4 linked regions of the Homo sapiens genome follow. The protein of the gene in region 3 interacts with the protein of the main gene of each other region in a pairwise test. Each region holds a gene or a part of one and is shown on either strand. Other genes may lie near its edges. The genes, in order: PRPF18, ZNF587, CSRNP1 and PPP1CB.

Region 1 (8,002 bases), on a different chromosome or scaffold from region 3:
CAAATTAAAAAATGAAAGACACCCAGGAAAAGTTTATATATTATAAATTATAAATGACCCTGAAGAATCTAAAGTTTTTTTTTTAATGATCATTTTTGTAGATTGGTGCATTTCAATGACGAAGAACATGATTATGCAAATATTCATGTTGTGAACCTTGAGGGTGGGCTGAATATTTTGTGATTCACTTTTCCCTTTAAAGCACTTAGATTTCAACACCCTGGCCCTTCCTAACATCCACTATGCACTCCAACACCTAAATTTAAAATACTCCCAACCACTCATCAAAAGGTCCCTGCAGTAGACATAAAAACATTTACAAATATGAACAAGCTTTTCCCCATACCTACCAAACAGCATTCTATTACCTCCACTTTTCTAATTGTTTTTAAAGTTTCAATGATCATGAAATTTGCCATTTACCAAGCTAAGAACTCTAACTTACTTACACTACATCACATACATCAATCGTACACAACATCCAAATATCTAAGTCAGATATTCTGTGATGCACGGATTTCCATGGGTCCTGTAGACCCTCTGAGAGGACTCATGAGGTCAAAAGTGTTTTCTACAGTAAGGCATTATCTGCCTGCTCACTCTGATGACATCTGCACTGTAGGTGAAAAGCAATGGTAAATTTGCTAAAGCCTTAGCAAGAACCAAGGCAGTGACTCTAAACTGCCACTGCAGCCAGAGGGAGCCAGTTTCTCTAAACAAATTTACTCCTTATGATAAAGGAGTAAAATTACTATTTTTATTAAGTCTTGATCTTTGGCCATATCTTTTTAATATTATGTGACAAAACAGGAAAGATGCATACAACAATTCTCATTTATACTAAAGTTTGCTGGTTGTGTGGAGGAAAGTAATTGAGTTGCAAGCTAAACTGGCTTTTTCACGGAATACCATTTTTACACTTAAGAACACCCGGCAAACCATGGTTCTTCAGACTTGGGTATTTGGCAGACAACTTCCCCAAACTGAACAAAGTGAGCAGATCACTTCAAGAAAATAACTGATAATATTTGTTGCCTATGATAAAATTCCAGCTTCCAAGTGGAAATTAAGTGTGGTGAACTTAGATCTGTCATCAGGAGCCTGACAGTTTCCTAATGCTTACAGATGTTTCTCAGATCAGTGGATATTAAATGAAGTGATCTTTTCATATTTTGTAATGAAATGTGTCAACAGGTGGGAGACCTGCATAATTCAGTAACCCAATGTTTTCCAAATGATCGATCAGTGAGTATTTTTAACGTTTCTCAGTTTTAACTTCTAATATGGTAAATACGGATAGAAATAACACATAAACAAAAGTCCTTCAAGATCTTCAGTAACTTTTAAGAGTGTGAAGGGGTCCTGAGACCAAAAGCTTTGAGAACCAGCGGTCTAAGTTACTGCTACACAATAAAGTAAGGGAGATCATCTTCAGGAAGTTCCTAAATCATGTAATTCTTTCTCCCCCTTTTTAGTACCTTTCCAAAAGAGTCTTAGCATTCCCATCAGTGAAGAGCAGGCCTACAGACTTTTCATGTGTTGAAGAAGAGAGAAGGAGGAGGAATAGAATTTAAAAAATTGGGATTTACTATTAGAAAGGAATTTTATTACTTTTTTTTTTTTTTTTTTAGAGACAGGGACTCGGTCTCTCACCCAGGCTGGAGTGCAGTGGCACGATGATAGCTCACTGCAGCCTGAACTCCTGGGCTCAAGCGATCCTCCCGCCTTGGTCTCCCAAGCAGCCGGGACTAGACGCGCGCACCACCACACCTGGCTAGAAGGAATTTTTTTTTTTTTTTGAGACGGTGTCTCACTCTGTCGCCCAGGCAGGAGTGCAGTGGTGCGATGTCGGCTCACGGCAACCTCCGCCTCCCGGGTTCAAGTGATTCTCTGGCCTCAGCCTCCTGAGTAGCTGGGATTACAGGCGCGCACCACCACGCCCAGCTAATTTTGGTGTTTTTAGTAGAGACGGGGTTTCACCATGTTTGCCAGGCTGGTCTCGAACTCCTGACCTCAGGTGATCTGCCCACCAAAGTGTGGGGATTACAGGTGTGAGCCACCGCGCCCGGCGGCCCTTCCTCCATGTTTCAGTTGGGCACAAACCCTTCGTAAGGCGACAGAAGGGAACTCTCAGGAGCACTGGGGCACGTCCGCAGAATGCCAACAGGTAGGAGCGGGGATAGGGGGCAGTTAGGTAAACTGGAGGGAAACAGGGTCAGTCGGGGGAAAACAAACAAAGCCTCGGGTTTTCCTGCAATTCCCACACCTGCATCCCTAAGGCTCCCAAGTGGTTACCGGAAAGAAGGCCGTGAGTGTAAGTTGCCCGGGTCCTTGGCGTTTTGAACAAAGAATTGGACAAAACGCACAAAAAAAGTAACAAAACACAGGAATGAAGCAGCAAAAGTAGGGACTTATGAACGCGAGAAAGCACTCCACAGGGTGTGAGTGGGCCCGAGCAAGCGGCTCGAGGCCCCGGTTACAAAGTTTTCCGGGTTTTAGGTACTCCTTCTGAGGTCCCTATCAGCTACCCCGTATCTGGATGAAGGGTTCGGTCTGTGGCTAAAGACTGAGGTGAACTGGCGCCCTATGCAGATGAAGGGATGGCCCGTGATTGGCCCACGGCCAATGCAGGGCACGTTCCCTTCCCATCTGAGAGGTGGTGGAAAGGCAGGGATGCGGGGAGAGCCGCAGCCTGAAGCCTTTGCTACTCGGTGGTGGGAAGATGAGGATTTTTCTTTTGGTTTGGCTTTTGGACGTGGGCGTTAATTGGCCTCAGGTTCCCGCCCCCAGACCCAGGTGTTTTCCTTTTGATCCAGCTTTGGGAAGTCAGCACGAATTGTACTCAAGTTCCCTGCTCTCAGACCCTATTCTCCAGCCTCAACAGTGAGACGCCAAGGGTTGGATCTAAGGGGGCCTACCAGGGGTAGTGGCAGGACACTCGCTAAGCCCCGTCCCCGCCCCGAATCCTCTGAGTATCGTCACCCTCACCCCAAAACCCCGACACACATACTCTCACTCTTACATCCCGACCCCCACGACCGCAGGGTCCTCACCACCAGCAGGTTCCTGTCCTCCACCAGCTGCCGCTTCCGAAGGATCTCTGATTTCAGAATGTCCATCTCGCCGCCAGAATTTAAGCTCCAGTTTCCCGCTCCAGCTCCTCGAACCCAGCCTCACTGGGCCGGCGGCCGCGAACCCACTGAGTATACGGAACAACAAGCCCAAACACCTGAGAACAACTGACAGGAGCCGCTTCCGGCGGAAGCTGGGATGAGAGAGATGAGGGAAGAGAGTGGCCCGGGGCGCCTGTGGTGGCCAAAGCAGCTGTGCGTGAGTGCCCACTGGCGGCGCCCTCCGGCAGCGCGCCTGTAGTTTCCCCTCGTAGGGAGGTTTACGTGAACGTGGACGGAAACCCGGGTCTTTGTAGTACTCTCTGCACCTGCTAGTTGAGTTCCAAAAGCCTCTCGAAGAACACCTCAATAATGCCAGTTAAATCAAGATCTTTATTAACTGGAAATTTACATTAGGGTTTCTGAAGTTACTTGCTTGCAAAATTTGCAAAAGGATGAGAAAAATCTAAACAATAATACTAACTTGTAACAATAGAGTGAAAGGGCTGTCTGTTCATTACTAGCCTGTTAAATTTCCTGTGAACTTAAACGACTACAACCATTTAAAGCAGTTTGGAAGTCAATTTATCTTCACTCCCTCTGTTTTAGATTGCTTACCAATCTTGGTGATAATTGAACATTTACCTCAAGCTAACTAATCATTTTTTGGTCATGTGTTCAGCAATCAAGATTTTTCAGTGACATGATTGGAGATGTAATCAGAAATTCCTTTTTTTTTTTTAAATCCAACCCAAGGGAAAAAAAGTTAAATTGAAGAGAAAAATTATGTCAGAGATTTTTTAAGTCCCTAACATTTGTTTACAGTGGACTTATTTTTTTCATGTCATTGAAGCACGTTTAAAAATTGTTTTTGTGAAATCATAATTGAACAATATTTGACATTTCGTTTTTCTTACTCAAAAAAGGTAAGAAATATCATTTTGTTGAGTCAGCTGATAATGGGTAAAATGCTTTACAAAACAAAAAAATGAACAATTGAATTATTTCAATTTAGAAAGTCTTTTGTGGGGGGTGATACTTCATCTAAAAGATATCTGAGGCCAGACGGGGTGGCTCACCCCTGTAATCCCAGAACTTTGGGAGGCCGAGGTGGACAGATCACCTGAGGTCAGGAGTTCAAGACCAGCCTGGCCAGCATGGTGAAATCCCGTCTCTACTAAAAATACAAAAATTAGCCAGGCGTGGTGGCAGGTGCCTATAGTCCTAGCTACTCAGGAGGCTGAGACAGGAGAATTGCTTGAATCCGGGAGATGGAGGTTGCAGTGAGCCGGGATCATGCCACTGCAGTCCAGCCTGGGTGATAGAGCAAGACTTTGTCTCAAAAACAAAACAAAATAAAATAAAATATACCTGACTTTTGCCAGAAATAAGCCAACACAGGAAAATGTCCTTGAACTAAATATGGCAACACTCTTGCATGAATATGGGTTTCCCTCACTAATCAATGAGCAAATAATAATTTATTAGCATTTTCCTGATTTAGGGATTAGGGATTGTTAGACACAAAAAAAACCTGAAGGGTTAAGACAGATGACAGTAACAGCAATGGAAGTTTACAGAGAACACAACGGCTGGCTACCTGGGAAACTGTCAGTGTAAACCAGAGAAGTTACTAGCTACAGTTAACAGCCTCCCCTTACATTTTAGACTTTCATTGATTTCTACGTTTATGTAAACATGTGCACTGAATCCTGATTAAGGCCTGAGATCAAAGAGTGATAGAGAGAAATACTTGAACAAGCAACTGACAAGCAAGCTTTTCCATTCAAAAGGAAGGAAAAAAGATATCCAGGAGCTTTTAGAAATACTTAAAAGAGGCCGGGCACAGTGGCTCACGCCTACAATCCGAGCACTTTGGGAGGCCAAGGCAGGCGGATCAGCTGAGGTCAGGAGTTTGAGACCAGCCTGGCCAACATGGTGAAACCCTGTCTCTACTACAAAAATAGCCGGGCTTGGTGGCACACACCTGTAGTCCCAGCTATTCAGGAGGCTGAGGCAGGAGAATCGCTTTAACCCGGGAGGCGGAGGTTGCAGTGAGCCAAGATCGCGCCACTGCACTCCAGCCTGGGTGACAGGGCAAGACTCTGTCTCAAAAAAAAAAAAAAAAAAAAAAAAGAAAAGAAAAGAAACACTTAAAAGAACAAATCGCCGTGACCCTAAGAGAGACCATATTCATTTAAAAAAACATGCATCCCATTTCATCACAATCATTATTTAAAAAGTGAAATATTGGGACTGGGTACAGAGGCTCACACTTGTAATCCCAGCACTTTGGGAAGCCAAGGCAGGAAGATCACTTGAACCCAGGAGTTCAAGGCTGCAGTGAGCATTGATCGCACCACTGCACTCCAGCCTGAGTGGCAGAGTAAGACACTGTCTCTAAAACAAAAATAAATAAATGAGAGATAAAAATGAAAAATTGGAAACAACCCAAGTGTTCTAAATGGAGGAATAGTTAAATAAAATATAGTTTATACACACAACCAAATAACATGGCATCATTAAAAACCATGTTTTTAAAAATTCAATGGTATGGGAATGCTCATGATACAATGTTCGGTCCAAAAGTAGCATAATGAAACTTTATAGCATATAGTCTCTGCTTTTTAACAAAAACATAGACATATGCTTCTTAACAAAAACATATAGACGTAATAAAACATTGATTGGAAGGAAACATACCAAAATATCAAGTTTTTATCTGGACAGTAGAACAATTGGGGATTCTTATTTTCTGCTTTTTACCACAATTTGGTACAAATCTCATAATATGGGGGGAAAATTCAGGTATCAGTCTTTTTCTGTTTAATTATTATTTAGACTATTTATAAATTTTCTAGCATGTCTATTTTAGACATTGTATATGATAAATTTTGAAGAGTATAAAAGAAAGCAAAGAATTAGATAAAGAATTTTTTAAATTTCCATAGTTATTCAATCTAATATTTAAATATCTTATATATGAGCTCTATACTACATTAGCTTCTGTGACCTAAACCAAAACATAGACCCTGCCCACAAAGAGATAGCCAGTTAGTTGGGGAATCAAGAAATAGACCTTAAAAAGTTAAATTTTGTAAGATTTAATAGTGTATATGTGGCTATAATTTCAGAAATTAAAAATCAGTCATCTTCTAAAAGAAAAAAGGGTAAAAATCAGTACAGGATTGATGAGATATTCCTCTGTAGAGGTAACTCATCCTAGGAAATTATTTGTCATTTCTGGAGACTGGAGGGAAATGCCAAATTGAATCAGGATCACCTGGATTTGTTTTGTGGCTGCCCTAAAAGATGGAATGTAACTTAAACAGCAAAGAAAAGCTCTATGATTCAATACAGTGGCTCTCAATCCTTAACATGCTTCAGGATAACCTGGAGGACTTTTTGAAACACAGACGGCTGGTCCCCAACCCCAGAAATTGTCTTTCCATAGGCTTGGGGTGGGACCCAAGATTTTGCTTTTTGAACAAACTCCCAAGGGAGATGGATGCTGTTGATCCAGGGACCTCATTTTGAGAACTGCCGACCTAATATATTATTTTGTCATCTCCTGCGGGGGAAAAAGTGCATTTGCAGTCTGAAATGCAGTCTGCACAAGTCTTCAGAATTGGAGCAGAGCGGGAAGGCTGGTCGGTGGTGTCTGCAGCACGGTCACAGGCACCTCAAAGGGCACCCGTCCACTCCCAGTAATGCTGCTTCTGGGAATTTCCTAATGGCAAGGGAGCAGGCTCCCTCCAGATCCAGCCACCTTTACAAAACTGCTTTGTAGGGTTAGACCACAGAGAATGACTTCTCCAATCTGGGACAATCAGAGTCCCTTCCCTAGAAAACTAAAACTGGAATGGAGTGGATCCTTCCAAGACTCAGGATATATAAAATGTGAATTCCAGAGTGATAGCCACTTCAGCCAGGCTGGTGCATACCGTCCCACAAGAGCCAATTGTTACATTTTTGAGAATTTTGTGTCAGTTGTCAAACTTAGCAATTATTAAAAATCAAATGAGTTTACTTGTAATCAAATAAATCATATTATAAACGAAGTTAATAAATACACAGAACCTAATTCTTATTTTACTACATTTTTACTCTTATGCTCTTGGAGTTATTTATGACTGTTGTATCTTTGTGGTGGAAATACTATAAAATGGTGGCTCCTGCAGACCTCTTACCAGTTCCAGGCTTGAGGACCCCACCTTGGCAACTGGAAATCAACCACAGTGACTGTATTAGTCAGGGTTCTCCAGAGAAACAGAGCCGCTAGGATATATAGGTATTTATCAGAAGAGATTTATTATGGGAATTGGCTCACGCAATTATGGAAGCTGTGAAGTCCCACAATCCTGCCTTCTGCAAGCTGAAGAACCTGGAAAGCCAGGGGCATAATTCAGTTGGAGTCTGGGGGCCTGAGAATAGGAAGGTGGGAGGTTGAGCTGGCTGGGCTAGCATAAGTCCCAGAGTCTGAAGGCCCAAGAACCAGGAATTCTGATGTCCAAGGGGAGTAAAAGGCGATGTCCAGCTCAAGAAGAGAGAGACAGGCCAGGCATGGTGGCTCATGCCTGTAATCCCAACATTTTGGGAGGCCGAGGCTCAGTTGAGGCCAGGTGTTCAAGACCAGCCTGGGCAACATAGCAAGACCCCATCTCTACAAAAAATAAAATTAATAAATAAATAAAAGAGAGATAGAATCCACCCTTCTTCTTCTCTCCTGGCCCTCAACAAATTGGATGATGCCCACGCATTACTCAGTCCACCAACTCAAATGCTAATATCTTCCAGAAACATGTTCGCAAACACACCCAGAAATAATGTTTTACCGGGGATCTGGGTGGGCATCCCTTAGGCCCGTCAAGTTGACACAGAAAGTTAACCAT
Region 2 (7,802 bases), on a different chromosome or scaffold from region 3:
GGAGGCCCAAGTTGCAGCGAGCCAAGACTGCACCACTGCACTCCAGCCTGGGTGACAGAACAAGACTCCATCTCAACACGAAGTCGCTTAAGACCGAGGACAGCAGACATTCTGATGTTTTCCACATTGACAGCACTCATAAGGCCTTTCTCCAGTATGAACTCTCCTGTGTTTAACGAGACGGGATGCTTCAGCAAACGATTTCCCATATTCACTGCACTCATAAGGCCTTTCTCCTGTGTGAACTCTGATGATGAAGGAGGGTAGAGCTTCGCTGAAATGTTTTTCCACATTTGGTGCATTCATAAGGCCTTTCTCCAGTGTGAATTCTCCTGTGTTTAATGAGACTGGAACATTCAGAAAAGGATTTTCCACATTCACTGCACTTATAAGGCTTTTGTCCAGAATGAACTCTTTTATGAACATGAAGCGCAGAGCTGGAAAGAAATGATTTCCCACATTCACTGCATTCATACGGCCTTTCTCCAGTGTGAATCCTCTGATGTATAGTCACGCTGTGCTTATTGCCAAATAATTTCCCACATACCTCACACGCATATGGCCTTTCTCCAGTGTGAACTCTCTCATGAACCAGAAGATGATACTTCCTGTTAAATAATTTCCCACATTCCCTACAATTGTAAGGTCTTTCCCCAGTGTGAAGTCTCTGGTGTTCAGTGAGGTGGGATCTGTACCTAAATGATTTCCCACATTCCTTGCACTCATAGGGCCTTTCTCCAGTATGACCTCGCTGATGGTGAACGAGGTTGCCCTTTTGACCAAAAGATTTCCCACATTCTCCACACTTGTAAGGCCTTTCTCCAGTGTGAACACGCTGATGGTTAATAAAGCAGAACTTCTGACGAAAAGATTTCCCACATTCCCCACAGTGATAAGCTCTCTCTCCAGTGTGACCTTGCTGATGTTGAATGAGGTTACCCTTTTGACCAAAAGATTTCCCACATTCTCTACACTCATAAGGCCCTTCTCCAGTGTGAACAAGCTGATGGCTAATAAGGCTGCCCTTCTGACTAAAAGATTTCCCGCACTCCTCACAGGGATAAGCTGTCTGTCCAGTGTGGACTCGCTGATGTTGAATAAGGCTGCTCTTTCGACTATAAGATTTCCCACACTCTCCACAATCATAAGGTCCTTTTGCAGTGTGATCTCGCTGATGATTACTGAAGCTGACATATCTGCTAAAGGATTTTCCACAATCACTGCACACATAACATCCATCTCTAGTGAAAAGTTTCTGGTGTGGAATAACTGAGTGTTTGGTGCTGAAGGCTTTTGTGCGTTTTCCACAACTGTAATTAGTTTTTCCCTCCTGAAAGGGTGGGCCATGCATAGTTTCACTGTCTGTCTTCTCTACAGCAGCTTCTTCTTGGCACAATCCTGAACTGGGCAGAACGTCCTTCCCAAACTCGCGGAAGACAAATGGCTCCTGTGACACCCTGAGCTTACGTTTCTTTACAAACGATGCTTCTCTGACACTCTTTCTGTAGAATTTCTCTCCAATATGCTGCTTCTGGTGCTGATGAAGGTATGCAGTGTCATCCAAGTTTTTTCCACATGCTCCACTCCTGTTCAGCTTCTGCTTGTGATGAGTTTCCTGGTGGTCAGCAAAGTGAAAAACATCCTCCAAGATGAGGCCACACATTTCACAGGGGTGAGCCTTCTTAGGAGAAACACCTGCCCTAGGAGTCCTGCTCTGAGACTCTCTTTGTACAGAAATTCTCTGCTTACAAGGTGCCTCCTCATCTTTTGATCCACACCAACAACCTGAAAGCAAGAAAATGCTGGTCAAGTGCAAAGTACCTCCGGCGGGAAGGCACAGCCCACCCACAAGTACGTCTCACAAATTGAGGAATTAATCTATAGAAATATTTGCAGGAACACAATGTTGGCTTCAAGTTGAAGATGGGGCTGCTGGCTGGGCATGGTGGCTCACACCTGTAATCCCAGCACTTTGGGAGGCTGAGGCGGGTGGATCACCTGAGGTCAGAAGTTCAAGACCAGCATGAACAACATGGTGAAACCCCATCTCTACTAAAAATACAAAAATTAGCTGGATGTGGTTGTGGACACCTGTAATCCCAGCTACTCGGGAGGCTAAAGCAGGAGAATCATTTGAACCCAGAAGGCAGAGGTTTGTAGTGAGCAGTGATTACGCCACTGCACCCCAGCCTGGACAACAGAGTGAGACTCAATCACAAAAAAAAAAAAAAAAAAAAAGATGGGGCTTCTTAGAATTCCTGGGCTATAAAGGTCACAGAATCCAGGAGGCTTCATGATGTAAAGAGCACAAGCATATATGCAACACAGGGAGTAGAGGCAGGGTCTACAGCTCCTTCCTCTACAAACAAGTTGTGTACAGGACCTTATCTCCTGATGACATGTGAGTGCTATATAGAAGAATATGGGCCGGGCACGGTGGCTCACTCCTGTAATCCCAGCACTTTGCAAGGCCGAGGCGGGCAGATCACCTGACGTCAGGAGTTCGAGACCAGCCTGGCTAATATAGTGAAACCCTGTATCTACTAAAAATACAAAAAGTCAGTCAGGCATGGTGGCATGTGCCTGTAATCCCAGCTACTTGGGAGGCTGAGGCAGGAGAATCGCTTGAACCCAGGAGGCAGAGGTTACACTGAGCCGAGATCATACCATTGCACTCCAGCTTGGGCAACAAGAGCAAAACTCTCTCTCAAAAATATACATATACACACACACATATATATATATACACATACACACATATATATACATCTATATATATATAGAAACATGTGAAGACCAAGAAAACATGAGTACAACACAGCAGGGGTGGTCATAGATGGTTTAACCATGGGCATACACTTCCTAATACGTAATCAATACACCAATATCAGAGACAACTGCAGATGAAAGCAAAAGAAAAATGGGTGAGATGTGGAGTCCAGAAATGTGAGTATTAGTGCTGGGGTGGATATCACTGCAGAAATGAAAAGGTACAGAACTAACACATGTGAAACTCTCAACAATGGGGAGAAAAAGACAAATAGTGTGTGCCTACTCATATTGCCCCAAAAATACTTGGCAAATGTAAATGGTTTCTGGTATGATTTGGATAAACCCCTGAAGTCATGCCCTCCCCCAGCATGGCACTCCTGAGGGACAGGCTCCCTTTGAGCCTATCGTGATGAGCCTGAATTGAACCACATCTTGTCAAACATGGAGGACTCTCCATCTCACACCCAGTACATAGGACCCGACGATGTAACTATGAAAGGAGAGATAGCAGAGATGAACAGCCAACACTAGCTCAGGACAACTAAGCACCTGACAGCCCACAGGAGAGTAAGGTAAGTATTACAAAAGAATTCCTAAGCAGGGTCTTGCAAGAAGAGTCTATGGTCTATGGTCTATGTAGGTAGTGACAATGTCAATGAAGGCAATTCTTGGCACAGGGAGGCACAAAGCATTGTCAGATAGAGGAAGGAAGTGTTAATAGAACCTGGGCACACAAGAGCTACCGATTTGGACAGTCACCTGACAGCCAGAGGCAGGCAAAGTGGATACATTAAGGTGCCTATAAGACTCCTGACTCTGACTCCTTCCCTGGGAGCCTGGAGCAAAGCAGGTGTTGGAGCTGCTTAAGGAGAGGAAAAGGTGGCTGGGCGTGGTGGCTCACGCCTATAATCCCAGCACTTTGGGAGGCCAAGGCAGGTGGATCACGAGGTCAGGAGATCAAGACCATCCTGGCTAACACGGTGAAACCTCGTCTCTACTAAAAAACAAAAAAAATTAGCCAGGCGTGGTGGTAGTCGCCTGTAGTCCCAGCTACTTGAGAGGCTGAGGCAGGAGAACGGCATGAACCCGGGAGGTGGAGCTTGCAGTGAGCCGAGATGGCGCCGCTGTACTCCAGCCTGGGTGACAGAGCGAGACACTGTCTCAGAAAAAAAAAAAAAACAGGAGAGGAAAAGGCAATACACACACCTTACTCCTACGAACCACACAACTTACACAGAGAAGTGCAGAAGGAACCTGTGTCCAGGCTCCTTAGGTGAGAAAGACAGTCCTGTCAATGAAAAACAGGGGAACAGTAACACTAGCTCAGGTCACAAAGGTGAGCGTGAGCAACTTACCCAGCGAGGATATGAGAGCCAGGTTCTCTAGCATCACATCACGGTACAAGCACCTCTGAGCCTCACTAAGAAGACACCACTCCTCCTGGGAAAAGTTCACAGCCACATCTTCAAAGGTCACAGTGCCCTGCTATGATAGTGACAGATGAAACCACAAGCAGCCCCTCTGCTGAGGTACCACAACCCACCTCTCCCACACACCCACCCTTGCCCATCCTCCTCCCAAGGTCCCCAACACGGAGTTGAAACCACATCCACTGGTGCCTTTGTCTCTTCATGGGCCTGCTGGTCAAATGCCATCAGCAACAAGAAGTAGGTGGACAAATAGGTATCCATGCTGAGGTCCTGACATAAAAAGGTCCACTCCCTTCTGGGCTGGGTGCGGTGGCTCACGCCTGTAATCCCAGCACTTTGGGACACTGATTCGGGCAGATCTTGCAGTCAGGGGATAGAGACTATGCTGGTTAACATGGTGAAACCCTGTCTCTACTAAAAATACAAAAAATTAGCCGGGCATGGTGGTGGGCACCTGTAGTCCCAGCTACTCGGGAGGCTGAGGCCGGAGAATGGCGTGAACCCAGGAGGCGGGGTTTGTAGTGAGCCGAGATCACACCACTGCACTCCACCCTGGCCAACAGAGCGAGACACCATCTCAAAAAAAAAAAAAACAAAAAAAGCCCACACCCCCTTCTGAACAGCGATATCCAAGGTCACGTAAAGCCCAAGGCAGCTGCCTGAGTCCATCAGACAACCTCGCTCTCATTAAATATATATCATTCTTTATACTGTACAGACACATGCCCATGGCCACCCCCACCAGAGTTTCCCCAACCTTCAGCCCCTCTCTGGCATCCCCAGAAGTAAAAGTTTATTTTTGGGGGATTTTTTTGAGACATAGTCTAGCTCTGCCACCCAGGCTGGAGTGCAGGAACACAATCATGGCTCACTGCAGCCTCCGCCTCCCAGGTTCAAGTGATTCTTGTGCCTCAGCCTCCCAAGTAGCTGGGATTACAGCCATGTACCACTACACTCGGCTAATTTTTTTTTTTTGAGACGGAGTCTTGCTGTGTCCCCCAGGCTGGAGGGCAGTAGCATGATCTCAGCTCAGTGCAAGCTCTGCCTCCCAGGTTCAGGCCATTCTCCTGCCTCAGCCTCCCGAGTAGCTGGGACTACAGGTGCCCACCACCACAGCTGGCTAATTTTTTGTATTTTTTTTTTTTTAGTAGAGACGGGGTTTCACTGTGTTAGCCAGGATGGTCTCGATCTCCATACTTCCTGATCCACCCACCTCAGCATCCCAAAGTGCTGGGATTCCAGGCTTGAGCCACCATGCCTGGCCTGTATTTTTTTTTTTTAGTAGAGACGGGGTTTCACCATGTTGGCCAGGCTGGTCTTGAATTTCTGGTCTCAAGTGATCCACCAGCCTTGGCCTCTGAAAGTGAGGAGATTATAGGGGTGAGCCACCACACCCAGCGCCTACAAATAAAATTATTTCACAAGATGAAGAGGGTATAACGGCCCATGATTCCCTTGGGAATATGCAATGGTTTGTTTCCATAACTCTGCTGGTAGGGATGGAATTGAAACCCACCACAAAATATAACAACCTGGAACCCTGCCTTATCACCTTGATAAAACGGGCTGTTAGGCTAGGATACATTATTCAAGAGAGCAGAGTGGGAATGAGATTTGTACTCACACCTTTTAAGGTTGTCCCACTTTCACAAGATGTCAAAGTGACACATCATATTGGGCCTTCAATTCTGGCCTTATACCAAAATGTGGATAAGCATCCAGACTATGCTTGACAAATACAAATAGCATCCAATATTAACACAGAATTTCCATGGTTTACAATAGCAGTGGTAATCCCAAATCATCCTGTGAACGTCTCCTGGAATGACTCCATAGCCACACAGAACCACATATGGCTTCAGATAGCCATGGCCCTATTTCACTTTTGTGCTGCACCAGCTGAGACCTCAGCTGTAGCAACCCTCCTCTGTCCACCTAATGCCGTTTAAAGCCCAGCCCCTGGATTTGTGAACCAAACCACATCTACTATCACAGATGAGCATATTTTTCACTGCCCATATGCACCAGGCTGAATGAAACTCCCCAGGCACTCCCAAAGTCATCTCAAAATGTTTATGAGTCCAGACAGTGATAAATAGTTACAACTGGCCAGGCACAGTGGCTCACGCCTGCAATTCCAGCACTTTGAGGCCGAGGCAGGCAGATCACCCGGTCAGGAGTTCAAGACTAGCCTGGTCAGCATGGTGAAACCCTGTCTCTACCGAAAATACAAAAATTAGCCTGCTGTGGTGGCAGGTGCCTGTAATACTAGCTACTTGGGAGGCTGAGGCAGGAGAATTGCTTGAACCCAGGAGGTGGAGGTTGCAGTGAGCCGAGATGGCACCATTGCACTCCAGCTTGGGCAACAAGAGCGAAACTCCATCTGAAAAAAAAAAAAAAACAAAAAAGTTACAACTTTGGCACCAACTCAGGCCTAAGTGTCATCTTCCCTGAATTACTCCTGTGCTTCTGCATGCATCTATCTCTTCTCTATTATCTCTTTGGATGTCTATGTCCCCTTCCAAACTCTACTGTATTAAATGTCCTGTTATGATGGTCACTCACACCCTCTCAGGTGTTTAGGAAGCCCAATAACATCAATTGAGGACGTAAGTAAGAGATCCAGTCCTCAGCCTGTAATCACACCTTTCTGCCCCCTGAAAAGATTTACCACCATAATCTGAAGCATGTCCTCCTAAATGGACCCATAACTAATCATAGTTCACTCATTAGCTTTCATATATTGGATGTCTCCAGTATCAACACCCTCCCAGATACCCCATCCAGTATGTCTAGTTATCGATTTGATGCCACCACTTATTGGTCTCTGATTCTTCATATGGCCAAAACAACCCTCTGGATATCCACAGTGAATATTATGTCAATACCAACGTCATCTCAGCTGAAGCAGTGTGCATGGTTACAGCTGCTAAGATCAAAAACCTTGGGCTCATGCCCGATTCCTCTTTCATGCTCCTATCATCCACATTAGAAAATCTAGCTGTCTGCAAGGCATGGTGGCTCGTGCCTATAATCCCAGCACTTGGGGAGGCAGAGGCCAGCGAATCTCCTGAGGTCAGGAGTTTGAGACTAGCCTGGCCAACATGGTGAAACCCCGACTTTACTAAAAATAGAAAAATTAGCCGAGTGTGGTGGTACATGCCTGTAATCCCAGCTACTCAGGAGGCTGAGGCAGGAGAATCACTTGAGCCCAGGAGGTGAAGGTTGCAGTGGGCTGAGATTGTGCCACTAGACTCCAGGCTGGACAAGAGAGTGAAACTCCGTCTCAAAAAAAAAAAAAAAAAAAAAAAAAAAAAAGCCTAGCTGTCTCGGCTGGGCGCATTGGTCCATGCCTATAATCCCAGCACTTTGGGAGGCCGAGATGTGACGATCACTTGAGGTCAGGAGTTCGAGACCAGCCTGGCCAACATGGTAAAACCTCGTCTCTACTAAAAATACAAAAATTAGCTGGGCATGATGGTGGGTGCCTGTAATGCCAGCTACCTTGAATGCTGAGGCAGGAGAATTGCTTGAACCTGGGAGGCAGAGGCTCCAGTGAGCCCAAGATTGCGCCATTGCACTCCAGCCTGGGCAACAAGA
Region 3 (7,802 bases):
GAGAAGCCCATGAGGGACTCCAGGAAGCAACTGCTGGCATCCCCAGGTGGAGACAGGCCAGGCAGGGGGAAGTGAGGTGCCTCGATGTTGTCCAGGCTGTCAGACACCTTCTGTGATGTGTAGTGAGGCCCCAGACTATAATCTGGCAGAGCCTGGAGTAACTCAAAGGAGTCACAAGAAGACAAGCTGAGATCCACTGAGCTACTCCGGCCAGCGTCCATGCTGGGTGGCACTGAGGTGCCAGGAAGGCTGCCTTCCCTTGACCCTTCAAGGCCACCATTTAGGAAGCAGCTGGCATCCAGGTTGGCATTCTCATCCAGGACGCCTGATGTGAAGCTACAGCCAGAATAGCTGTGGGTCCAGCTGGCCAGGCCACCAGGGTCACTAGTACCAAAGATGTCAGCTGGATGGAAGCAGCTGAGGTTGTCCAGGTTCCCCACGCTCCCTTCCTCCTCTTCCTCCTCCTCCCCACCGAAGTCAGAGTCACTGAAACTCAAGATGCGTGCCAGGCTGTCATCATCAACGCCAGGCTGGAAGCCAGGGCCAGGCAGGCCTGGGTGGGTGGGGCAGTCAGGAGCCTCACTAGTGCCCGATGCTGATGAAGATGCTGTAGAAGAATCAGTCATGTCGCTGCTGCAGCTGTTGTCTCCCAGCTCATTGTTCATGGGGGGCTTGGCCAGTGGGAAAGTAGGGACCAGGGCCTCCTCACCAGGGCTGGGTGGGCTGCCCTGGGCAGGGGCCTCCAGCTCCCTAAAGCTCTCAGCCTCCTGTTCCAACTGCAGGCGGGTGAGTGTGTGGATGAAATGGGTCTGAACTCTTGCCTGATTAAATTCCACACGGCCCATGGGGTTCTCACAGCCCTCCCTGCAGCAGCCACAGGGGAATGCTGTGTGGTCCATCTGCAGAGAAAAGTAGAGGTACAAGTGAGGGTTCTGTGGAGTGCAAAGAAGTCCCCACGCTCAGGATCCCCATCCCAGTCCAGCCACCACACCTGGCACTTGATGCCTGCCAGGCTGCAGCTGCAGGTCTCAGGGTCGCAGATCCTATCGCAGTGACAGCCACAATCCTCCCGGGATTGGCGCAGTGCCTGCAGCTCCCGCTTCTCCTCCCGATCGATCCTTCGCACACCTGAAGCCCTCAGCAGAGCTCGACGTCGCCGGGCTGGGTAGGGCTGTAGGAAGCTCACTTCTTCCAACCGGCCACCTGCCACAGCGACTGCCAAGTCCTCCTCCACAGAGGCGTCATCAATGGCATCCACCACAGGTGGCAGCCCTGCCTCTGCCTGGGGTACCCCAGCTGCCGAAAGCTGCATCCACAGGAAAGAGGGATGTAAGAAGCACAGACATGGACATGGGCTTAGCCCTACTGTCACTAGACAAACCCTCCCCAAGTGCTTACCCCCCCACTACTCGTGCTTAATCTGCGATGGGCACTGTGTGTCAGACAGTGAACAGGACAGCCAAGAAAACTGCCCTCAGGGCATTTGAAAAAAAAAAAAAGAGATATCCTACTCATGGCATTCCCTAGATCATGGACAGACTCCCTTTCCTAACCAGACAGATACGCACCCCCTCCAGTTCATATCAACTTCACATCCCCCTCTCCAAAAAGTTCAGATTCAGGTATCATGCCCCCAGCCCCTGCAGCAAATAGACACGAGCCCTCCTCTGCGCCTCCTGTTGCAGACAACCCAGGCAACAGGCTCCAATCAAGCCAATCACCAGGCCCACAGGCCTGTTTCCCCATAACCATAATGAGCAAGTCAGCACCCACCCCTGGTACGCCCACCCCTCAAGGTTAGGACTCCAGGAGCTGCCTCAGGAGGTGCGCCACGGAGAGGACTCTCTCTACCTTCCACTGCAGCATCTCCAACTTCTCCTCTTTCAAGCGCTGGCGGAGCTTCTCGTGCCGTGCACGGGCTTGCTCCTGCGCAAACTCAGCCAAAGAGAAGCGACGGCAAGCACTGTGGCGAAGGGCCATACCCAGAGTACAGCCACCACGGCTGGGCACACTGGTGAAGCCCTGGCAGCGGGGGAAGTAGAAGACGGTGATCCCATCAAAGGCTACACGGCCTGGGCGCTCCCGGCGAGCCCGCTTCAGGATAGACAGGGCTAGAAAGCAGGCAAAGATGGGCTGGGGATTAGTTTTCAGTGAGGCACAACTTACCTCCAAAAAGATCATGCCAGACTGCCCTCCCGCCTCCCACCTTTTCCCTCCTCCCTCTCCACCCATTTTGAAAAAAGAAATGTGAATTTAGGAGCCTGTGTGGTTGGGACTGGAGCGGCTGAAACTGAATACCACACCCATGTCAGAACTGGCTTATTGTTATTTACCAGTCCAAATGACAGTATTCGTAAGATTAAACATCTTTCCTATGTTTATTAGCCATGTACAGGTCCTTTGTACAGTTTTCTATTGTTTTTTATTGATTTGTAGGATTTCTGTGTTTTGCAACAGGCTTAAAAAGGCTTTCCCTTTACAAGTTAATGTTTATTGATTAGTAAGCTATGTACTGGTATTTTCATTAGGTTGAACCATAGCAAATTACCATGTAATGGTCAAATATTGGAAATTCCATATATTTCAACTTACTATATTAATTTTGTACCCAGCTACCAGAGGGAATTCCCTTCTAAAAGGTTTTCTGTTTATACTGTTAGATTCCATGTGCTAAAAATTATATTCTTTTTATGTGTAATGCACAGATATATACCTACAGTACATAAAAAGGTAAACAGCACATCTATTGTATTAAAATTTCATGGTGGGGGATAATTAAGGAGAAAATGTCTAAATAGGCTTCCTGGGGAACAATAATGAAAAATAAGGTCCAGAAACACTGCTCTAGGGCCATGTTCATCAGTCTGGAATCACAACTATACAAGCTTGAAAATAACCAGGAAAAACCCCTTTTCACTATGTTCAGGCAAAATGGACAGCATTTTGACAGGAGAGGGACCGGCTTGACAGGCCCCGTGGCAGAGAAGCATGGGGCGGGCGGGGAACTCCAGCAGTTCCATTTGTAGGACGGTAGGGTGCTCATTGGAGAAACGAAACTGGAACAGAAGGGAGGGGCCAGACCGGGAAGGCCCTGAGAGCACTCTGCAGAGCTGCATCCCGGATGTCATCACTCCCAAGGTCAAAGGTGAATTAGCTGGGCTCAGGTGCCCCTGGACAGTGGACACTGAGTGACCACTATATTATAGCTCATGAGAGCTACCGCCATGGGGACCTAACCACCAGAGGCCAAAGGCATTTGGTCAGGGACTTCTAAATTTCATCTTTCAGGAAGGCAGGCAGGTGATGGAGTTCCCAGGGGAGGGAGTACTCACGGGTGAAACTTCTGGGGCCGCAGAAGTCACGGTCAGGCAGGGGCATCTGATCCCAGGGGCCTTCCTCCTCTGAGTCCCAGGCACGGGAGACAGAAGAGCTTGGGGAGCAGGAGCGAGACTGGCACCCAGAGGAAGAGGAGGAGGAGGAGACCGAGGAGTTGTCCTCATCCAGCTGGTCAAATTTCCTCTTCAACAGCCCAGTCATGGTGGTGCCGGACGTGCTCTGGGGTCTGGGGACAGACAGCCTGGAATAGGAATGAGAAGGCTCTAAGTGGCAGGCAGGCAGCAGCAGGTGGACTTCCAGCCAGGATCATCATCCCTCCCACTTACCCTCCAAGGCATCCCAGACCCTGGCCTCTGCCCTCCAGCCCTGCCTGTGGAGCTCTGTGTGGGGGAGGGCACAGTCTCCAGGAGGATCTCTGCACAAGACACAGCACCTCCCTCCCTCCAAACTAATGTGCAAATCCACAGCCTGATGCTTCAAACTCCCACCTCTGCCCAAAGCCTTCCCAGGCACCAGGCACCTTCCCCACTACCTCCTACAACACACACTTACATACATACACAAAACACACACACACACACACACACATGCATCCACACCAGCAGGGGAAGGAGGCAGACAGACCAACAGATGGACTGACAGACCTCAGCCTGGTCTCACTCATTCCCCGACAGGAATCCTGGCGCTGACTCACAGGCTGGGTGATTCACACAGCTTGCATCTGTGTGCCTGTGTGTGTGTGTGTGTGTGTGTGTATGTGTGTGTGTGTACGCCCTACAGCCCGCACAGCCCGCACGGCCCTGGTATGGTGGCTCTGCTTCCTCCTCCTCCTCCTCCAGCACATCCAAACAGGCACGCCACTCTGCACACAGGCAGGGCTGCGGGCCCTTGCTCCAGGCTAGCCAGGCACTCTGGGGAACAGGCTGGCTTTGACGTTGGCCTCCATTCCTAGACGGAGTAGTTTCTGAGCCCTTCCCCTCCCGGTGTGGGAGCTTCTCAGACTTTCCCTTAGAAACCCCCGCTCCACTGTCAAGAAGTCTCCTGCCTCCAGGCCTGTGTGACCACAGCCACTAAGGCTGTCTCTTTAACATCTCATTTGATCCTAATGTCCAAAGTCTCTCCTGTCTGTGGCTTCGTGACATGGAGCACCCCACAACACAACACTGTCTCCCAAGTGAGAGTCTCAGCCCTCAGCAGAAGCATAACCAGAGACTCCCACAGCTGGCTGGCCTTATCCAAGCAGAAGAGACTTGGGGCTCATTCCCTGGAATGCTTCAGCAAATAAGGGTCCTTCCCAAGGTTTGGCAAGCCCCAGAGGACTCAATCCCAAAGGCTGAGTACAGCTACCTTGTGTCTGTTGCTCCAGCTGGGCCTTCGGGGAGGTCACCAGGGGGAAAGGGAAAGGAAGTTGAAGCTGAGGCCGAGGCCCCAGTGCTGGGGAACCCTTCCCCCACTGCCATCACAGGAAATGAGAGAGAACAGGAAAAACCAACCAGAAGGCTGTCTTGGTCTCCTCTACTCAGGTGTCCTTTCCAAACACTCCTTTGCCCTCTTCCCAGCCGCCTACAAAGTCCCCGAATCCTGTAGAGTTTGCTGTCAACCTTACTAACTGGATAATGTTTACCCCAGGGACAGCCTCCCCTAGGCAAGCGTGAGAGAAGCAAGAAAATCTCCCTCCCCAGCCAATCCCCCACCCTGGGCCTGGGGGAAGACTCACAGATGTTTCCGGGGGCTTCTCCGTGGGTAGTTTCTCAGGCTTGGCACCCCCCTCCCAGGGTCAAACCACAAACAAAAACAACCCAGCTCCCAGCTGACCAGCAGGTTCTCCCAGGAGGTGGGGGATTCATGACCCAGAGGCAGGCATACTCACATGTACACACATGCTCAGACAACACGGAAACACACATATGGACAAACAACACCCACACATCCTGTCCCCATCGCATCCTGCCAAGAGACCCCATCCTTTCCCCAGTTCCAGATGCCATCTACAGGGCCCTGAATGCCTCCTTCACCACACATCCAGCCTGAGATCCCCCAGGACCCACTGCCCACTTGTTATCTCCGCCCAACCATCCCCTAGAAACATAAAATTCTGCAGGCCCCAAATCGAACCCCTTGTGTCTGTTCCCCACCCCCCATGCCATCTGTTCCTCTTCCTGTGTTCCCTATCTTAGTAACAGCCCCACCACCCACCCAGTCACTCAAGCCAGAAACCTGCAGTCATCCTCAACTCCTTCCTCTCTCTTCCTCCATCTATATCCAGGCACGCCATGCCTGGGAGTTCATGTAAATCCGTTTAATCCACACAGAGCCAGGAACAGACCCAGGAGGTATCATGGAGGCCACGTGGCCGTGTTAAGAGCTTCGGCTCCAGGACCAGACTGCCTGCTTTTGCATGGAGGCCACGTGGCAGTGTTAAGAGCTTCGGCTCCAGAACCAGACTGCCTGCTTTTGAACTCTGGCTCCACTGTTACTTGGCTGGGTAATCCTGGGCAAGTTCCTTAACCTCTCTGTGCCTCCAATTCTTTGTCTTAAGACCTCATAGGGTTGGGGGGTTTAGAAGAATCAACACATGTCACATGTTCTTAGATTAGTGATAAGTGCTCAGTGAATGTGTTATTCCACACTGTTTAAAAAAAAAAAAAAAATGAGCTCCAGCTCCTGGATGCACACGACACAGATGCATCTCACAGACATCATGCTGAGTGAAAGAAGGCAGACACGAAATACATGCAAATGTTCAAAAAAAAAGGCAGAACTACTCTGTGATGATATAAGTCAGAGCAGTGGTTCCCCAGGAGAGGGAGAAGGACACCCTGGAGAGAGTCATGAGGGAAATTTTCTGGGGTGGGAGGTAGGAAGGGCTGGGGGACCTGTAAAAGTTCTATGTTGATCTGCATGGTGGTTAAATGAATGTCTAAAATTGTAAAAATTCGTCTTATGGACACTTAAGATTTATATACTTACGCATTTTATTTAGGTTACTATCAATTTAAAAAGTTCACTAACCTTAACATGTCTCTGTCCCCACAGTGGCCACCCCATGTCCCTCTACTCCTGCCCTCTTTCCCCAGCCATTCTTGATCCTGCAGCCAGAATGACCTTCTTAAACCACACATTTACCTGCCACTCCCACGCCTAGAACCACTCTATAGCTCCCCTTGGGGCATTAGGATCAAGTCCAGAATTCAAGAAGCTGAAGCTGACCTGGCCACTGCTTCCCTCTCCCCACCTTGCTCTCTTTACTCCAGCTGAACTGGCAGTTCCCGTAATGGCCATGTCCCTGCTCACCTCCTGGCCTCTGCAAAGCTGGAACAACCCAGCCTTATTCCCTTTCAGAAAGTCATCTTTCAAGGGGCTTCCTGAATCCCCCACTCCTTCCTCCTGCCTTTCTGTGCTCCTGCTATGGACTGAATATTTGTATCCTACCAAAATTCTTATGTTGAGACTGAATCCCCAGTGTGACGGTATTTGGAGGTGGGCCTTGGGGTAATCAGGAGATGAATGACACCTTATTAGCACCTTTATAAGAAGTGACACAAAAGAGATGGTCTCCCTCTCCAACATGTGAGCTCAGACCCAGCAAGAAGGTGTCCATCTGCAAGCCAAGAAGGCAGACTTCATCAGGCTGACTAGAGCCTTGATCTTGGACTTCACAACCTCCCAAAGTGTGAAAAATAAATCTTTTGTTTAAGCAACCCAGTCTATGGACTTTCCATTATAGCAGCCCAAAGGAAAACAGCTCCCAAAAACCCTGGTATTTCCCTATCACAGACTATATCTGATCAGACTGCAAGGGCCTCATTGCTCATCTGCCTCACACTGAGGGCATTTCTCTCTGGCTGCCCATGTGCCCATGTCTAGGACAGAGTCTGGCATAGAGAAGGCACCTGATAATACCAGAGGTAAGCAGACCAGCCCTGCATATCGGGTATAGACCCAACTGCACAGGCAATCTTACCCACATGAGGCTGCTGAGGGCGACTGGTCAGTGTGACCTTCTCCTGCTCCTGTCACAGTTAATTTAAGAGGGGCAGGAGGAGAGTCACATGTCTATCCCCCAGCTGTGCCAGAGGGTACAAGCAAGAATGGTGCTCAAAAAGGGTGGCTCTGGTGGCAGGAGAGGGAAGCTCAGGCTGCAGGCAGGTGCCAATGTAGGCAATCCCAGGAGGCTCCCTGGTCCCCCAAGAGGAAACAGATGGAGAGAGATGTCAGGAAAGCAGGCTCAGATACGCACTGCGGCTCTGCCTAAGGGATCGCCACAGAAAGAGAACTTAAGGTGAGGAGGTTATGACCTCCAAGCCTACAGACAGGGAAACAGAGACACAGGGAAGCTACGGTCATGCTGCAGGTTCTAGTGATGAACAATCCCCTCCAAATCTGCAGAGCGGGAATGAAATGAGAAATTACCTCCTCCCTGATACTCCTCTGGAGAGGCGGGGGAAGTGCCCCTGGTTCTCATG
Region 4 (7,802 bases), on a different chromosome or scaffold from region 3:
GCAGTGGCTCACACCTGTAATCCCAGCACTTTGGGAGGCTGAGGTGGGCAGATCACCTGGGGTCAGGAGTTTGAGATCAGCCTGGCCAGTATAGTGAAACCCCGTCTCTACTAAAAATACAAAAATTAGCCAGGCGTGGTGGCAGGCGCCTGTAGTCCCAGCTACTCGGGAGGCTGAGGCAGGAGAATCACTTGAACCTGGGAGGCGGAAGTTGCAGTGAGCCGAGATCATGCCACTGCACTCCAGCCTAGGTGACAGAGTGAGACTCGGCCTCAAACAAAAACAAAAAATTAAAAGATTAAATAATTCATACCTATTACCAAGTCTACAATCAAATGTTCTCTTTTTTTGAGACTGAGTTTCACACCCATTGCACAGGCAGGAGTGAAATGGTACGATCTACACTCACTGCAACCTCTGCCTCCTGAGCTCAAGCGACTTTCCTGCCACAGCCTCCCAAGCAAGCTGGGACTACAGGTGCACACCACCACATCTGGCTGTTTTGTATCTTCTGTGGAGACAGAGTTTTGTCATGTTGCCCAGCCTGGTCTCCAGCTCCTGGGGCTCAAAGGATCTGCCTGCCTCAGCCTCCCAAAGTGCTGGAATTACAGACATGAGCCACTGCACTGAGCCACAATCAAATTCTTCAATGGTCTCAAAAATACTTTTTTAAAGTGTGGTTTGCTCTTATCAAAATCGCCATTATGCACAAAGATTATATAAAAATGAGGCTGGGCACAGTGGTTCACGCTCACGCCTGTCATCTCAGCACTTTGGGAGGCTGAGGCGCAGATCACTTGAGCTCAGGAGTTCAAGGGCAGCCTGGCCAACATGGTGAAACCCTGTCTCTACTAAAAATACAAAAATGAGCCAGGCGTGGTGGTGCGTGCCTGTAATCCCAGCTGCTCCGGAGGCTGAGGCAGAAGAATCGCTTGAGCCTGGGAGGCGGAGGTTACAGTGAGCAGAGATTGTGCCACTGCACTCCAGCCTGGGTGACAGAGTGAGACTCCATCTCAAAAAAAAAAAAAAAAAAAAAAATCTAAATCATATCTACAAAGCTTCAAAGAAGCACTGAAAATTTTGTTAGGTTTGCTGTATACTACAAAAATACATTCTTTTTTTTGAGACTGGGTCTAGCTCTTTCACAAGGGCTGGAGAGCAGTGACATAAACATGGCTCACTGCAGCCTTGATCTCCTAGGCTCAAGCGATCCTCCCACCTCAGCCTCCCACGTAGCTGGGACCACAGGCACGCACCACCACACCCAGCTAAATTTTTGATTTTTTTTGTAGAGATGGAATCTCATTTTGTTGCCCAGGCTGGTCTCAAACTCCTGTACTTAAGCAATCCACCCATCTCAGCTTGCCAAAGTGCTGGGATTATAGATGTGAGCCACCATGCCCAGCCCCAAAATATTTCTAAACATTTCCTCTTTTAGGGTGATAAAAGGTTAACAAATCACTAGATTGTTAAGTGTGAGATCCAGGAACTGGCTCTGCCACCTCTCCTACTGCTTTCCTTGTACAACTCATTTAGCTTTCTTGGATATGTTTCCTCAAAACAAAATGAGAGGGCTTATGTGAAGTTAACAAATAATAAATGTTTAAGAGTCCAGGTGTGGTGGCACACGGCTATCGTCCCAGCTACTTGGGAGGCTGAGGCACAAGAACTGCCTGAACCCGGGAGGCACAGGTTGCAGTGAGCAGAGATTGCGCCATTGCACTCCAGCCTGGGTGACAGAACAAGAATCTGTCTGCCCCTCCGTCTGCCCCCAAAAAAAAGAAAGAAAAAAGAAAAAGCTTAAGAGTTTTATATTTCATACCTGATGAGCTCGACAAATCAAATCTAAATCATGACGATTCAGAAATTTACTGACTACATCAGCTCCAAAAGTAAAGGAAACACCACGATCATTTTCTCCCCAGCCTTGCACATCCTTATCTGGATCAGACCATAGCAAATCACAGAGCAAACCTTTAAAGGACAGAAATACAGCAATTAAGAACAAAATTTACAGATTTATAGAATATAGCACATCTACATCAAATTTCAGTTCCTTTCTTGCCCTCTTACCTTTTACTAAACAATGACCATCACTTGCCTAAGTATTCCAGCCTATGTAACTTATACTTTTGTTAAAGCAACCATACAAACCATACAAATATAATCTTCCATGGCCTCTTAAGGTAGTACTTTCCAACCCTTTCCACATATAGGAAATATGTGCATGGCACTTACAGCACAACAATACATGGAAAAGGCTGTTCATCTTTTGGGTAGTTTCTCCATATGAATAACCAAACAACCCAGTGGTATTTCCTCAACAGTTCATCCTTTCCTTACGGTTCCACTGTTTCTGAGCACCACAGTCTATTCTGTTAGTCTATTTTACTTATCCCTGAGCCAATAACAGACTAGAGCTTTTTAATAAGTCTTTATATTTGGTAGGGCTAGTATCCTCCATTTTTTTTTCAGGATTGTCTTGGTTACTTTTTGATCTTTTGTTCTTCCACATAAACATTAAAAACAATTGCCTAATTCCATAAAAAACTCAATTGTGATTTCACTGGAATTGTATTTGATCTACAGATCACTTGAGCGAAAAAAAAACATTTTCTACTGAGACCCTGAGGATTTTTTTTTAAATGTGGAAGAACAAAATCAGATCAGATCCTTGACTTTGGTAATGTTTGGAGCCCTGGAAAAGAGGTCAGGGTTAAAAATATTTACTTGAGTATTGTCATCATATTAATGGTAGTGGAAATCTTAAGAGGGACTCAGACCACCTTAGGAATACAAAGTGAGAAGACCAGCAAATGAATTCTGAGGAATTCAAACATTTAATAGGCAGGTAGATGAGGGAGAATGAACATTAGGTATTGAGAAGGAATGATCAAGACAAAGGGCTTAGTATAGTAAACGTATCCCGAAAGGGGAAACAATCGTCCTAAAGTAGGAAATGTGCCATGAACAAGGGCAGTAGGACGAAGACCAAAAATGTGCCACTTACAATTAAATCATCAGACCTCAATGCAAGTTTCTTGGTGATTGAGGGTAACGGAGTGGGTAAAAGTCCAACTGTAGTGATATTAAAAGAAGGGTGGATGTTGAGATGGTGATGGTGATTTTCTAAGAATTGCAGTGGCTAAGAGAAGATACATATATATTTTTTTGAGACGGAGTCTCGCTCTGTTGCCCAGGCTGGGATGCAGTGGTGCAATCTCTGCTCACTGCAAACTCTGCCTCCCGGGTTCACGCCATTCTCCTGCCTCAGCCTCCCGAGTAGCTGGGACTACAGGTGCCCGCTACCACGCCCGGCTAATTTTTTGTATTTTTAGTAGAGATGGGGTTTCACTGTGTTAGCCAGGATGGTCTCGATCTCCTAACCTCGTGATCCGCCCGCTTCGGCCTCCCAGAGTGCTGGGATTACAAGTGTGAGCCACCGCGCCCAGCCAAGAAGATAATTTTTAAAGAGTTAAGTCAGTTTTAAGAATTTTAAATAATCCATAAACATCATAGTATGGTTTAGGAGGAAAGGGCATCTTCATTTTCAGTTACAGTACATCATATCTTGATAGAGGCATTATAAAACCATTTGTAGAATTAGTGGCAATGTATTCAATCTCTATCATTGATATATCCCAAGCTCCCTGTATGTTGTTTTAAGAAATTCACTAGCACACAAAATCCACTGGAATAGTCAGTCTCAATTCTTAAGCCCTTTCTGGTTGAAGCTGACTCTTCGAAAATATACACCCACCCAGTGCTTAATAATGCTTTCATACTTTCCAGCCTCTTTCCAGTAGAAAGCTAAGGTATTAAGAATCTATAATTTCTTTTTTTTTTTTTTTTTTTTTGAGACGGAGTCTCGCTCTGTTACCCAGGCTGGAGTGCAGTGGCACGATCTCGGCTCACTGCAAGCTCCACCTCCCGGGTTCATGCCATTCTCCTGCCTCAGCCTCCCGAGTAGCTGGGACTACAGGCGCCCACTGCCACACCCAGCGAATTTTTAGTAGAGATGGGGTTTCACCGTGTTAGCCAGGATGGTCTCGATCTCAAGAATCTATAATTTCAGTGAGACAATAAAACTGTATAAAATTAGAATAGAGTTTGAGGTTTAGGAAACATGACACTCTGGATGCATTAAAAAAATCAAATAATGGTAGCAACAACAATCTGGAATTCTTTAACCTTAACAGGGTCTAGATAAGAATTTCAGGCCAGGTATGGTGGCTCACGCCTGTAATCCCAGCACTTTGGGAGGCCGAGGTGGGCGGATCACCAGAGGTCAGGAGTTCAAGACCAGCCTGGCCAACATGGTGAAACCCTGTCTCTATTAAACATACAAAAATTAGCTGGGCACAGTGGCAGGAACCTGTTATTCTAGCTACTTGGGAGGCTGAAGCAAGAGAACTGCTTGAACCTGGGAGGTGGAGGTTGCAGTGAGCCGAGATCAGGCCATTGCACTCCAGCCTGGGCGACAAGAGTGAAATTCTGTCTCAAAAAGAATTTCAGAGTCAAGATTTATTGTTTAATGAGCTAGCATCACAATCAACTAGGCTGCTTCAAATAATGTATTAACTTATAAATTAAATTTCTGAATGTTGCAGACACTATCAAAGATCAAAATAACTGTTTTCAGCATCTTGAAAACTTCTCATTAAAATACGCTAAAATAAATAAAACATGCTAAAAACAGAAGCCTAGCATATCACACTAGATCAGTTTACATCTGAACTATAAACAGATATTCTGAAGAATGACCAGTAATACATATTTATATTATACCTTATTTTAAAAATAGCACTTTGGGTGTTTTTTGAAAGAGAGGGTCTCACTGTGTCACCCAGGCTAGAATGCAGGAGCACAATCACAGGTCACCGCAGCCTCAACTTCCCAGGCTGAAGTGATCCTCCTGCCTCAGCCTCCTGAGTAGCCGCGGTGCTGCGACATGTGGCTAATTAAAAAAAAAAATTTTTTTTTTCTCTGTAGAGATGGGTGTTATGTTGCCCAGGCTGGTCTCGACTCCTCACCTCAAGTGATCTTCCTGCCTTGGCCTCCCAAACTGTTGGAATTACAAGCATGAACTAGTGCACCAGGCCTAAAAACAGCATTTTAAATAAAATACTATTTAAATACCAGTTTGTTAGGTTTAGTCAAATGTATTCTATAATTACAATCAAAAACTGTGATAAAATGCATACTTTAAAAAATAATCAACACAACAAGTCGTGTTATGTAAAAAAGCTCATAACACAGGCCAGGTGTGGTGGCTCACGCCTGTAATCCCAGCACTTTGGGAGGCCAAGGTGGGTGGATCACAAGATCAAGAGATCGAGACCATCCTGGCCAACATGGTGAAACCCCATCTCTACTAAAAATACAAAAAATTGGCCGGGTGTGGTGGCGGGCGCCTGTAGTCCCAGCTACTCGGGAGGCTGAGGCAGAAGAATCACTTGAACCCGGGATGCAGAGCTTGCAGTGAGCCGAGGTTGCACCACTGCCCCCCAGCCTGGTGACAGGGCAAGACTCTGTCTCAAAAAAAAAAAAAAAAAAAAAAAAAAAAGCTCCTAACACAATTTATTACAACATACAGTGTATTACATGGCTACTGACATCAGAGGATCTATACCATTTATAATGGTTGATGTGTAGTTCTGAGCAGCATTTTTTGTGGTGATTGTTGTTTCTTTTTTCTTTTTTTTTTTTTTTTTGAGACAGTTTCACTCTGTCACCCAGGCTGGAGTGCAGTGGTGTGATCTCGGCTCACTGCAACCTCTGTCTCCCAGGTTCAAGCAATTCTCGTGCCTCAGCCTCTTGAGTAGCTAGGATTACAGGAACGCACCACCATGCCCAGCTAATTTTTGTTATTTTTAGTAGAGATGGGGTTTCATCACGTTGGCCAGGCTGGTCTGGAACTCCCGACCTCAAGTGATCCTGCCCACCTCAGCCTCCCAAAGCGCTGGGACTACAGGCGTGAGTGCCACTGCTCCCAGCCTTCCCAGAGATTTCCAATGTAATTTTCACAAAACTGACCACAGGTCTCTAGAGCCTTAAGAGCTCTAAAAATTTAAGCCAGGTATGGCACATGCCTGGAGTCCCCTAGCTACTCAGAAGAGGCAGGAGGATTGCTTGAGCCTAGGAATTCAAGGCCAGCCTGGGCAACAGATTGAAATCCCTCCCACACCCCCTTGAAAAAAAGCTCTAAAAATTTCAAATAGAGGACATAGAAAATAACAAAAAACTACTAGACATTTGAAAAGAAGGTAGTTGTATCCTTGCCTAAGAAGCAAAGAATAGATTATTTTAATTAAAAAACTTTTGTCTAATTTAACAAATTTTTGAAGAACATAACCAATGCTAGTATGAATGAGGGAATTTAGAAAAATAGGTATAAGGACTCAACAGCAAAATCTTTTTTGTGATCAAATAACTACATTATGACTATAAATAAAAAGGTTCCGCATTTTGAGGATCAGTGCAAAGTGAAAAATTGTGTATTACTGCAAATAAAGTAATCTGTAGCTGGCTTATTGACTATGAAAAAAGCTCTTTTATTTATTACATAAGCCAATCCTACTTCCACTAAATGTAATCAAGTTCAAATATGAAAACACTTTACACAAAACAATTAAACTTCTCTCTACACTTACCTGTATCAGGGACATCAGTAGGTCTCATAATTCTCCGAATCTGCTCCATAGATTGCAGGTCTGGTGACAATCCTATAAATAAAAAGATGAGACATAGTACTAACAGCTAAAAATTTTAATATTTTAACAGTCACCGAATAAAAAGCATTTAATCAAAATAGATTCACTATGTGAAATTAAAGATACTGAAAAGTGTTCCTTTTAACGTCTTTTTTTTTTTTCGAGACAGAATCTTACTCTGTCACCCAGGCTGCAGTGCAGTAGCGTGATCTCAGCTCACTGCAACCTCCACCTCCCGGGTTCGAGCGATTCTCCTGCCTCAGTCTCCCGAGTAGCTGGGACTACAGACGCGCGCCACCACATCCAGCTAATTTTTTGTATTTTTAGTAGAGACGGGGTTTCACCATGTTGGCCAGGCTGGTCTCGATCTCTTGACCTCATGATCCAACCACCTTGGCCTCCCAAAGTGCTGAGATTACAGGCGTGGGCCACCGCGCCCTGCCCCTTTTAATGTCTTAAAGGGCAACACAGAGTTATTAGGAATTCCACTTTGATATAATACAGCATTATAATTGTTTTTTTCCATTTTTCCCTACCAGGGAAATGAAATTCCTTTATATTTCAAAAGACTTCCCAAGGAAAAAAAAAACTACCATTCTTTTTTCCAATCATTCCCTGGCCTTCATAGAAACATAATCAACTGCAACCCTTCCTACCACTTTTGCCAGTTCTTACCACTAATCTTAAACATTTTAACTTCTAAGTGAAAGTGCCTCACTTGGTTCCCTAAGACCTTCTTTTCACATCCCACTCCAACATGTTCATTATCTTCATGAAGTCATAAACTATTGATCAGAAGGATTAACAGGAAAAGCTCATAAAAATACTCTGCAATCTTTGAAGTGGTATATAAGCTATTATTTCTCTCTGATAGGCAATCCAAGTATCATCACAAGGAATGAAGCTAAACATTCGTATCCATACTGCTACACTTCTATCCTTAGCTACACTAATGTACAAGAACTACAATTCATTACGTGTTTAATGTCTACTGGAAAACATATTTCAATTAATATAGTGAATTATGTTCTGCCAGAGAATAAACCATTTATTACCTCGGGCCTAGGCAAGTGCATCTATCTTTTCAGC

The links.
Region 1: the proteins of CSRNP1 (region 3) and PRPF18 interact in binary tests that used the Homo sapiens proteins (3 or more experiments, as listed by UniProt).
Region 2: the proteins of CSRNP1 (region 3) and ZNF587 interact in binary tests that used the Homo sapiens proteins (3 or more experiments, as listed by UniProt).
Region 4: the proteins of CSRNP1 (region 3) and PPP1CB interact in binary tests that used the Homo sapiens proteins (3 or more experiments, as listed by UniProt).

What each region holds. Positions count from the first base shown.
Region 1 is NC_000010.11:13,582,204-13,590,205, reverse strand, and holds the start of PRPF18 (pre-mRNA-splicing factor 18), read right to left. Parts: upstream 3,242-8,002; 5' UTR 3,120-3,241; coding exon 3,054-3,119; exon of another isoform or gene 3,023-3,053; intron 1-3,022.
Region 2 is NC_000019.10:57,852,559-57,860,360, reverse strand, and holds part of ZNF587 (zinc finger protein 587), read right to left. Parts: intron 4,258-7,802; coding exon 4,128-4,257; intron 3,345-4,127; exon of another isoform or gene 1,786-3,344; coding exon 221-1,785; 3' UTR 1-220. UniProt on the Homo sapiens protein: May be involved in transcriptional regulation.
Region 3 is NC_000003.12:39,143,146-39,150,947, forward strand, and holds part of CSRNP1 (cysteine/serine-rich nuclear protein 1), read right to left. Parts: exon of another isoform or gene 4,797-7,802; coding exon of another isoform or gene 4,684-4,796; intron 4,286-4,683; exon of another isoform or gene 4,001-4,285; coding exon of another isoform or gene 3,981-4,000; intron 3,578-3,980; coding exon of another isoform or gene 3,538-3,577; coding exon 3,333-3,537; intron 2,112-3,332; coding exon 1,852-2,111; intron 1,839-1,851; exon of another isoform or gene 1,774-1,838; intron 1,307-1,773; coding exon 992-1,306; intron 900-991; coding exon 1-899. UniProt on the Homo sapiens protein: Binds to the consensus sequence 5'-AGAGTG-3' and has transcriptional activator activity. May have a tumor-suppressor function. May play a role in apoptosis.
Region 4 is NC_000002.12:28,782,830-28,790,631, reverse strand, and holds part of PPP1CB (serine/threonine-protein phosphatase PP1-beta catalytic subunit), read right to left. Parts: intron 6,726-7,802; coding exon 6,654-6,725; intron 1,975-6,653; coding exon 1,823-1,974; intron 1-1,822. UniProt on the Homo sapiens protein: Protein phosphatase that associates with over 200 regulatory proteins to form highly specific holoenzymes which dephosphorylate hundreds of biological targets.